3 linked regions of the Homo sapiens genome follow. The protein of the gene in region 3 interacts with the protein of the main gene of each other region in a pairwise test. Each region holds a gene or a part of one and is shown on either strand. Other genes may lie near its edges.

The links.
Region 1: the proteins of PRKRA (region 3) and ZMAT4 interact in binary tests that used the Homo sapiens proteins (3 or more experiments, as listed by UniProt).
Region 2: the proteins of PRKRA (region 3) and LYAR interact in binary tests that used the Homo sapiens proteins (3 or more experiments, as listed by UniProt).

Annotation. Positions count from the first base shown.
Region 1 is NC_000008.11:40,896,370-40,900,121, reverse strand, and holds the start of ZMAT4 (zinc finger matrin-type protein 4), read left to right. Parts: upstream 1-2,295; 5' UTR 2,296-2,439; intron 2,440-3,752.
Region 2 is NC_000004.12:4,288,432-4,292,183, forward strand, and holds the start of LYAR (cell growth-regulating nucleolar protein), read right to left. Parts: upstream 1,724-3,752; 5' UTR 1,605-1,723; exon of another isoform or gene 1,172-1,604; intron 1-1,171. UniProt on the Homo sapiens protein: Plays a role in the maintenance of the appropriate processing of 47S/45S pre-rRNA to 32S/30S pre-rRNAs and their subsequent processing to produce 18S and 28S rRNAs. Also acts at the level of transcription regulation.
Region 3 is NC_000002.12:178,430,825-178,434,238, forward strand, and holds the end of PRKRA (interferon-inducible double-stranded RNA-dependent protein kinase activator A), read right to left. Parts: intron 3,268-3,414; exon of another isoform or gene 2,558-3,267; intron 1,431-2,557; coding exon 1,273-1,430; 3' UTR 590-1,272; downstream 1-589. UniProt on the Homo sapiens protein: Activates EIF2AK2/PKR in the absence of double-stranded RNA (dsRNA), leading to phosphorylation of EIF2S1/EFI2-alpha and inhibition of translation and induction of apoptosis.

The sequences.
Region 1 (3,752 bases), on a different chromosome or scaffold from region 3:
GCCAGGCATGTATGCATGAAATAGAAAGTCACCATACAAGGCAGTGGGGCACCTGCCATTTGCTGCAGAGGACGCAGCTGAAGATAAGGACTACAGCCATTCAAGGCCCCAGGGGAGGCCAGGGCAGGACTGGGACCAGAGCCTCACCAAAGACATGGAGATCCTAGGATAAGAAGGCTGAAGGGTTAGTTTCTGGATCATCTGAAATTTGATATTTTAAAAGCTTTCTTTAAAAGACGCTTTTATAATTCTCTCTTAAAAAATTCAGCCCATTTTGTCCTTTGCCATTTTTGAATTGGGTTATAGGTCTTGTACTTATTGATTTATAAAAGCTCTTTCATTTTAGAAACATTAATAATAAATATTTTACCTAGTTAAGAAAATTTAGCTGCCAAGTGATGTCTTTTCCATATGGTGACAAATACATTAAGGAGAGGGGAAGGTCAAAATTTGTGCTTTATGATTTCTTCTTAATTTTTAAAAATTTTTAATTTTATGGGAACATAGTGGGTGTATATATTTATGGGGTACACGAGATATTTTGATACAGGCATGCAATGTGTAATAATCACATTAGGGTAAATGGGGTATCTGGCACCTCAAGCATTTAGCATTTCCTTTTGTTACAAACAATCCAATTGTACTCTTTCAGTTATTTTAAAATGTACAATATGTTTTGCTGACTGTAATAACCCTGTTGTGCTGTCAAATACCAGATCCTATTCATTCTATCTAACTCTATTTTTGTACCTAGTAACCATTCCACCCCCGCCCCTTCCTAGCCTCTGGTAACCATCATTCTATTCTCTCTGTCCATGAGTTCAATTGTTTTAATTTTTAGCTCTCACAAATGAATGAAAACATGTGAAGTTTGTCTTTCCATGCCTGTTTTATTTCATTTAACAGAATGTCCTCCAGTTCCATCCATGGTGTTGTAAATGACAGGATCTCATTCCTTTTTATGGCTGAATAGTACTCCACTACGCATATGTACCACATTTTCTTCATCTAATTTATCTGTTGATGGACACTTACATTGCTTCCAGATCTTGTCTATTGTGAACAGAGCTGCAATAAACATGGCAGTGCAGGAATCTCTTCAAGATACTGATTTCTTTTTTGGGGGTATATACCTAGCAGTGGGATTGCTGGATCAGATGGTAGCTCTATATTTAGTTTTCTGACAAACCCCAATACTGTTCTCCATAGTGGCTGCATTAATTCACATTCTCACCAGCAATGTAGGAGGGTTCATTCTCTTTTCTTCACATCCTTGCCAGCATTTGTTATTGCCTGTCTTTTGGATAAAAGCCATTTTAACTAGGGTGAGACTTTATGATTTCTTGGTGAACAAGGAAAAGTGTTTAAGCTGTCCCCACCCTTTGATGGGTATGTTCTCTCTTCACGTGCGTAGGTTGTTGATGAAAGTCTAAGCGATTAATTTAAGCCATGTCAGAATAAACCAAAGTGAGGGTCCCAGCAGAATCATTCACTCTAGAATGCTCGGCTTTCTGGACCTCCCAGTGAGAACAGTGAGAAACTCCAGAGTTTTATGGATTTTAAGAATAGCTCTTCTGAGACTCTTTGGACAGGGTGCAAAGGAAAATTGTCTCCTCAGGTTGGGGGATGAGGGGGACTGTGAGATAAAGTACTGATAGATAAACTCCAGGTATGCACCTACTATGCTCCCCAAGCAATCTGCCATGTCCTTCACATGTCCTCCAGGGTGGCCCTGTGAAAAGCATTACTCCATCCCTTCAGCCCTCAACCTTGCTCGGCTTTCTAGAGTCTGTCTCATGCCGGCAGACACCCCATAGTTATTATTCTCTCTGCCCTCAGCAACATTTACCAGTTAGGGGGAAAATAAAGCCAGAAAATTGTTGCTATGGGCTCTGTTTTGTGGAAGTTAAAATGCTAGAGCAAGAATCTGATTGCTTGATAGCTCCATCTCTCTCTCTCTCTCCCTCCTACCCTCCTACCCCCCCACAGTTTCTCCTTCTTTTCCTCTCCCCTCCACCTCCTTCCCCCACCCCGCTCCCCCACATTTTCCTACTCCTCTCCCCTCTCTCCACTGGCCTCCCGGTCCTGCCCCCACATTGGGCTGGAGGAGAGCCTTACAGGTTGTCAATGAAACATGGAATTATTTCCTTTGATGGCTTAGATAATAGTAGGAGCCAAAGCAATGAGTGAGGTCGGCTGAAACCAATGCAGTCCTGCCCGGGACTGGAGAGCCAATCGCAAGAGCAGAGGGCGGGGCGTCGGAGCCAGCAGATAATTGCTAAGTGCATCGCTAGCACAGTTGGTCCGAGCTGCCGAAAGGTCTGGTCGCAGAGACAGGAACGTGTAATCCTCAGCGTGCTCCAGCCCACAGCTTCGCTCTACTGCTCGGCAGGGCAGCTGGCCTCTGGGCACCGGCGGCCCCTCTGCCTCGCGGAAAAGGTACCTCTGCCTGCGTCCCGGGGGTGCAGCGCCTGCGTCTCCATTGCCAGTGGCTTTGCAGTTTAGCCTAGGTGGAGGGATTGCAGAAAGAAAAGTTTCTGGGAGGGAATGTGATAAAGGTGGGAAATCACTGTCTTTTGTTGGGAGGAAAACAAGCGGACAATTTGGGAAACTTCTGCGCTGGCAAGAAATGGGCTTGTTTACTACTCCTAATTAGCTGCGCTCAGGTCTGTCTAAATAGGTCTGGTCTCAGGCTAGGGTGTCTGCAGGGCTGGGGTGGAGATTCGGGTGTGCTGGGTGAAAGAAGTTGGATCCCAGGGTGTGCTGTTTCCTGGTGCACCCATCATGGATAGGCTGGTTCCGAGAGAAACGTGATTGGTTGTTTGTGTTTTCCGCTATAGGGTCTGTCCCCTTCGTATTACCTTGATCTGCCTTCCCCAAACTATTGTGACCTTCAACTGGAGTCCTTCCTCAAACTTCTGCCTCCTTCCTGCCTGTCTCAGTTCATTTTATTTGGTGGAAGGAGACATTCCCCGGGGTGGGTGGGTGAGGATGGTCTATTCTGTTTGACCTGGTGGGCACCTACGTGACAACTTGGTGACACGCCAGCAAAACAGTTCTCAGAGGAGAGGAAATCACATAATTAATTAGCTCCCGAAAACTCTGGAAGACTTTCCAGGCTTGGGGTATCCTGAAAAAAAAAAAAAAAGAAAAAGCCAAAAAACGGGATAGAGAGTTCGGTTTGGTACCATGTGAAGCTTACACCCTTGTCCCCAGAAGGGGTGCCTGGCCCGGAGCATCCCCGCAGCTCTGGGAGGTGGAGGCTGGTGGAGGGGGTGGCTCCGTGTAGGTGCGCAGGTTGTTTTGGTGCACAGGTGCATTTGTGGCAGAGGTGGTGCTGAAGTCACCATCCACACTGCTTCTGCTAACTGCTCTTGAAGTAAAACAGCTCACCCCGGCAGGCAGCTGGTTCAGCCCAGAAGCACCCTTGAGCATTCTAAATCGCGAGACCTCAGGGGCCTCTCTTGCTCTGAGACCCTTGGGAAACTCCTTTCTCCCCCTGCCTCCTCCGCCTTTGGCTTCTGCTAAAGGGAGATATTAGGTAGGTGAGTCACTAGGAAGCAGGGACCCATGGGGAAGCAGGCGATGTGCTTGGTCTCGAACTTTCTTCCTCTTCTGCGAAGGCAGCTTCTGCTTGTGTGCCCACCGCACTTCACCAGTTGCGCTGCCTACCTGCGGGATACTCTGAAGCTGATAGTCTGGGGGTGATCTTCCAAGTCCTAGGGGCATTGAAGAGTTTAGATGATTTTCAT
Region 2 (3,752 bases), on a different chromosome or scaffold from region 3:
TTTTTTTAAATCTTCTTCCCTCTATATTTTTGTATTACTTATTCAATTTTTTTTCTTTTTTTTTTTTTTTTTGAGACGGAGTCTCATTCTGTTGCCCAGGCTGGAGTACAATGGCGCAATCTCGGCTCACTGCAGCCTTTGCCTCCCAGGTTCAAGTGATTCTCCGGCCTCAGCCTCCCCAGTAGCTGGGATTACAGGCACATGCCACCATGCCCGGCTAATTTTTGTATTTTTAGTAGAGACGGAGTTTCACCATGTTGGCCAGGCTGGTTGTGAACTCTTGACCTCAGGTGATCCACCCTCCTCGGCCTCCCAAAGTGCTCGGATGACAGGCACGGGCCACTGCGCTTGGCCTTGACTATTCTTAAAATATTCTTGCATGCACATGCAGACACTGACCTACACATCATTACCACCACTACCACTCAAACAGCCCACCTGAGGGGCCTAGCTGGCAACCCCAGGATATCCCCCACTGAACACTGTGACCCTGAGCATGCCACTGCCTCTATAAACTTCAAGTTATCTCATCTGTGAAACAAGAAGTCAGGCCAACTTGACAAGACTCAAGCCCCTTCCACGGGTAGCATTCTGAGAAACCATGGGTATGGTGCAAGAGAAGGACAGACAAACATACTCTGTCCACCATCCTGCCTAAACCTTTGTGTATGAGGCTGACAAGGGTTACAATGGGTGACATTCACAAGGAGAGAATCTCTCCCTTGTTCCTTGCAAAAGCCCTGGGAAGTAGGTGCACCTATCTCCACTAAACAGATGAGCAAACTGAGGCACAGAAGCCATTTCTCTCTGCCTCCTACCCCACCCACGGCATCACCAGCACTGTTTTAAACACCATCCCTTCACTCGAGTAACTACCATGTGTCAGGCACTATGCTAGACCCTGGGAGCCTCGGGCACAGTGTGAGTAAGTCCCAAGTGGGCCCTCTCTGCTAGAAATCAGGGTTGCAAATACAGACCCCACCTCATCCTCCTCCCTCTCTCCTCAGAGGTAGGTGCTTCAGAGAATCCTAACATTCATGGAGCACCCAAGCCCTCTCATAGGAGGTTAACACATTTCTACTCATGTAATCCTCATCACAGTTCTCCGAGTTAGATTCTATATGTTATGACAGATGAGGAAAGTGAGGCGCAAAGAGGTTAAAAAACTTACACCAGGTCATCCCACATCCAGGTAGTGGCAACCCAGATTCACACGCAGTAGTTATTCTGATCCTAAGTATGTGCTCTGGACCGCTACATCCTAAGGCCTCCTCTTTAGGGACTGATCTCCCAAGGCTCAGAGAAGAGCCCTGTCTCCAACATGCAGCAAGCCTGAAGCCCAGTCGGGCGGTGACCAATCGTCCTGGTTTGGCCAGGCCCGAGGGAGTTCCCAGGACGCCGGACCTTAAGTTTTAAAACTAAAACGAGTTGGTCACCCTAAGTCCAGGACTCCTGCCACTTCCCCAGAGCAGGAGTGAGATCTGAATGGAACTCCTTCCTCCATGCGTAACCCAGAGGGGCTGACGGTGGAAATCCCGTCCCTCCCCTACTCACTCTCTGAGCCCCAGCCTCCCAGGTCGGACCTCTGGGCCACCACCCCTCACCTCTCAGCCAGCGCCCGCCAACGGTTTCAACCGGCCGCGGGGAGCACGTGGACTCGCCGCCGCCAGCCCAGCGCCGCAGCTACCTGCCTCTCAGGCTTCGCGGTGCAGAATTCGCTTCTGAACCACCCAGCGCGCCTGCGCACCGCGGCCACGCCCCCCCCAGTGGAAGTGACGCCAACGGAAGCAGGAAGGCGGTTCCGGCAAGCCAAGGGGGCGTTGTCGTGATGATTCCGCGGCCAGCGGATCGCTGCGAGTGGCCTTGAAGGCAGCTGCTGCAGGTGAAGAGTAGGCGGCGGGGCAGAGAGCGGCCTCCGAGGGTAAGGTGGCCGGCCTTGCGAAGGCGTGCGGGGCTGGCGCTGGTGGGAATGGCCCGGAAGGGAAGGGAGGCCGGGCGCCCGAAGGTGGCCCAGAAGGGCATGGACCCACCGCTCCTTCCCGTCTCTGGGCACTCGAGGATACCCGGGGGGTTGGCGGCTCCTGCGAGAGTCAGCGAGCATTTGCTCTGTGCCGGGCATCACAGGGGACGCGGACTGAGACCCAGACGGCCAGGTTCCGGGCCTGGGAGCCGGGCCTTCTCCCTGGTGCAGCTTCCTCGGCCTGGAAACCCCACCCGCGCCCTCTCATCTCCAGGCTTTGCCCGCTGGAAGCCAGCCCGGCCCGCCTCCGCTACGCGCTGCCCATCTCTCGGCTTCTGTTTCCTTCCACGCTGTAGTTGAGAGTAGCGCTTAAGACGACAGAGCCCACAGCCTAGCTCAGTTTCATTACGGTGTGGCCTCTTTGTGCCTCAGCCCCGCATCTGTAAAGCGAATGTCATAGCGGCACCTGCGTCCCTGGAACCTTGTCGTATTTCATGAGTTGGTGCATGTAAATCGCTTAGACTAGTGGCTGCCACTTAGTAAGTACTCAATAAACGTTAGCTCTTCTCAGCCCTTAAAACAGGGTCTGGCACACAGTGGTGGTCACTAGGTGTTTGTTGCTTAAATGAATGAATGAAAGTTGAGTGGAGGATGCACAGAGTATTGTGAGAAACCTTCACTCCCAAGGTGTGTGTATATGGGTGATAAGGTTTCACTCTGAAAGTGAGCAGTGTTGGGCCTGGAATAGAAGGTGTATTAGTTTGCTAGGACTGCAAACAAAATACTGGGTGGCTTAAACAACAGAAATTTATTATTTTCTCACAGTTCTGGAGGTTAGAAGTCCAAGATCAAGGTGTCTTCAGGTTTGGTTTCTTCTGAGACATTTCTCCTTGGCTTGCACGTGGCTGCTTTCTTGCTGTGTCCTCGCATGGTCTTTCCTCTGTGTTTTCACATCTCTGGCGTCTCTCTTTGCATCCAGATTTCCTCTTTATGAGAACGTCAGTCAGGTTGTATTAGGGCCCACCTTAATGGCCTCATTTTAACTTAATTACCTTCTTACAAGCCTGATCTCCAAATACAATCACATTCTGGAGTGCTGGGGGAACAGTTTAACCATAACAGAAGGAATTCACAGAAATGGACAAGGAGGGAAATACTTTCCAACAGAAGTGACAGAATGGCCAGGAGGCTTAAAAGCAGGGTGCTCAAGATGTTTTTTGTGTTCAGGGCACATATGTGTACTTCAGTCTTGTTTGTGCTCTCGTACTGTTTTTGGGTTTGGTTGTTGTTGTTTGTTTGTTTGTCCTCCTGAATACTCAAAGAAAGTGAGCCCTCTCATTTTTTTAGTCTGGCAAACTTAACTCACATTTCAGCATAGATGTGTCTTCCAGGAAGTTTTCCCTGACCCTCCCTCCCAAATTAATTTCTGCTTCCTCCATTTAATAACTTTGGTACAGGGCTGGGTGCGGTGGCTCACGCCTGTAATCCCAGCGCTTTGGGAGGCCGAGGCAGGCAGCTCCTGAGGTCAAGAGATAGAGACCAGCCTGGCCAACATGGTGAAACCCTGTAAACCCCATCTCTACTAAGAGTACCAAAATTAGGCGGGTGTGGTGGCGCATGCCTGTAATCCCAGCACTTTGGGAGGCTGAGGCGAGTGGATCATTTGAGGTCAGGAGTTTGACACCAGCCTGGCCAACATGGTGAGACCCCCACCCCTCGTCCTTACTAAAAATACAAAAATTAGCTGGGTGTGGTGGTGCATGCCTGTAATCCCAGCTACTCGGGAGGCTGA
Region 3 (3,414 bases):
CACGAGCCGGCGCTGACAGATGGAAGACTTGAGATGTTACAAGATTATATATGGAAACACAAAAGGTAAGGTTAAAATCTGTTCATTAGACTTATTTCCTAACCTTTTAATCACTCATCACTTTGGAACATTCTTGCAACTGAACTGAATAAGCTGGGAAGGTTTTTTGGGTAATTCTACTAACGCTTTTTTTTTTTTTTTTTTTTTTTTTTTTTGAGACAGGGTCTCACTCTGTCACCCAGGCTGGAGTGCAGTGCTGTGATCCTAGCTCACTGCAGCTTTGATCTTCTGGGCCCAAGCAATCCTCCCACCTCAGCCTCCTGAGTAGCTGGGACTCAAAGTGTGCCACCACACCTGATTTTCTTTTTGGTAGAGATGGGGACTCACTATGTTGCCCAGGCTGGTCTCAAACTTTTGGCCTCAAGGGATCCTCCCACCTTGGCCTCCGAAAGAGTTGGGATTATAGGCATGAGCCAACATGCATGGTCAAATGCTTTTTAAACTAGTAATTCACCTGTGTATGGTTATGTCAAAGAAAAATACAAGGTTGCATACGCTTAGAGAAAGTAAGGAAGTAACCCATTACATGTATGTTTGTAAATTTTACTTAGGCCATCATTTTTTATTTTCACCTTTGAATTTCAAAGTAAATTAGAGATATGTAAATAACAGAATTATCAACATTAAAATCTTATTCACAATGGCTAACAAGAACAGGATGACAGTCAAGTCAGTAGCTTTTTAATAAAATGAGCAGAATCCCATCGTAACAGTTCTTTGTTACATGAATTCAAATACACAGCAGACCAATCATGTTCCCTGAAATTTAACAATCAATCATACTTAATAAAGGCCTGTTAGTGCTGTCCCTCAAGACTCTAATTCTAAAGGGCTTCCTTTGAATTCCCTTTATAAAGCTTTGTGCAAAGAAGAGCTTAAGCACCAGTAAGAAAGACTGTCGCTAGCATTTTTATTTCATCATCAACAACAAACATGCAGTTTCTTTCTCTGATGTGCATGGCACTGTAAAATGGGTGCTACACTCTCTCTTGTGGTACAAAGTTTATAAATACAGTATACTGATACAAAGTTGAAGCCATTAAAAAGAGCTTAATAACAACTATGAGGAGATAATTAAATCTGGAGTGTTGATGGAATCTATGAAGAGATTTAGAAACAAGACATAAACACTACGGTAAAAGTTTTACTTGGGAAGGGGCCAGAGGGGAACTTTTTATGTGCTACTGAAAGATTTTTTAAGTTGCTCCAGATTTACTTTCTTTCTGCTATTATCTTTAAATACTGCAAAGCATTGTGAGCTGCATCACTTTGTGCATTGCCACAGGAGATACCGGAGCCATGACAGACTGTGATGGGGCTGGTGGACAGTTCAGCAAGACATTGATATTGTCCATTGGCGCTCAGTTCATCTGTAATGACACATTCAAGGATGACGATTAATGTCCAATATGTATAAAGTGGATCCCTTTGTAAAAACAATACAATTCTTATTATTGTCTTTCTTTTTAAGCCTCCATGGTATACTACACCACTCGCAATCTTTGTTTTGCTTGTACAAACAAAAAACCACAACTGCTCAGCTGTAGCAGTTTTCAAACACATTACACTTCATAATGATCTGACAGTGTTAAAGACATACAGATATCTAGGCTGCACTCTAGCTCACTCAATCAGAAATATACAGTTGGGGGTGGCTGATTCCTACACTTAAAAAAATAACAGCTCCCAAGGCAATTCTAATATAGTTAGTTGAACACTATTTGGAAATTACTGAACCACACAGTAACTTTCTCAAAAGGGAAAGAACCATTTGCTAGAGGACTGGAGAGATTGTATTTTCCACTAGGAAGTCATTTTCAGGAGGCATTTGAACCAGGAATAACTTCGGTCAAGGCAAAACCTCCCTTGTGTCTTCTATTAAAAAAAAATGTTTAATTGATACATAATAATTGTATGTATTTATGCTGTTGTCCATTCATGTTCCTAGGTTTTAAGTCTGTGCAGAGTCTAGTTCTTTATTTATACTGTAAATGGGTCATGGTATTTTAAAAACAATACCTGACCCAGGAAACAAACGTTCTTCCCATCAACTGATGAGCCACTCTTACTAAAGATGGCTGAAATGAGGGCAAAGAGGAAGAAATAGAAACGTGTGCGGTATGATTTATTTGAAGTAGGCATAATAAAAATGTTATTTTTGATACTCTATTTAGTGGAAAATATCCAGATACAATGGGATTATTTAATGAGTAAAGAGGCTTTCTAGTTCTAGTATCTAGGTTCTTTTCTCCTGACCCTCCAGCTTCTGCTTGAGGCTCATCCATGTTGTAGAATGTATCAGAACTTCGTTTCTTTTTACAGCTGAATAATATTTCATTGGAAGGACAGTCCACAATTTGTTTATCCACTTATTCACTGATGGATGTTTTGGGCTGTTTCTACCTTTTGGCTTTTGTGAATGGTGCTGCTATGAATATACAGATACCTGTGTGTATAGGCATTTGTTTAAATACCAGTTTTTTATTTATACTCCTAGGAGTGGAGTTGCTGGGTCATATGGCAATTCATTTGAGGAACTGAGAAGCTTATTCCATGGAGGCTGAACTGTTTTATATTCCCACCAGCAACGTGTAAGGTTCCAGTTTATCTACATCATCACCAACACTTGCTATTTTCCATTTCATTAATGATAGCCATCCTAGTGGATTTGAAGTGGTACCTTATTATCGTGGTTTTGATTGCATTCTCTATTGACTAATGATATCGAGCATCTTTTCATGTATTTTTTGGTCATTTGGTCATTTTTCTTTTTTAATTTTAAAATTTTGAGACAGGCTCTCACTATGTTGCCCAGGTGGTCTCAAACTCCTGGGTTCCAGCGATGCTCATGCCTCAGTCTCCCAAAGGGGTGGGATTACAGGTGTGAGCCACTTTGCCCAGCCCATTTGTATATCTCCTTTGGAGAATATCTAGGTTCTTTTGAAGGTAGCTGCATATAAACTAGCCAAATTAACAGACTGTGGTTTTTAGATGGCTTTCCATATCTACAAGAACTATTTAGTTCTCAAAACTGGGAAGAAATGTTTCAGAGGCATCATTAATTCATAATCTAAAAATTTATCTTGGGTTTCCTTTTTTCCCCCAGATTCTGTATCCTCCATAGTCCTATTCATGACATGGGTCGTTCATCTCTGTATTCTAAACCCTCAATGAACTGTAGACAGTAATAAATATTTATTGGATGAATGGTCTCTCATCAGCCACCTTTTCTTTTTTTTTTTTTGAGACAGAGTCTCACTCTGTCACTCAGGCTGGAGTGCAGTGGCGCGATCTCGGTTCACTGCAACCTCTGCCTCCCGGGTTCAAGTGATTCTCCCACCTGAGCCTCCCGAG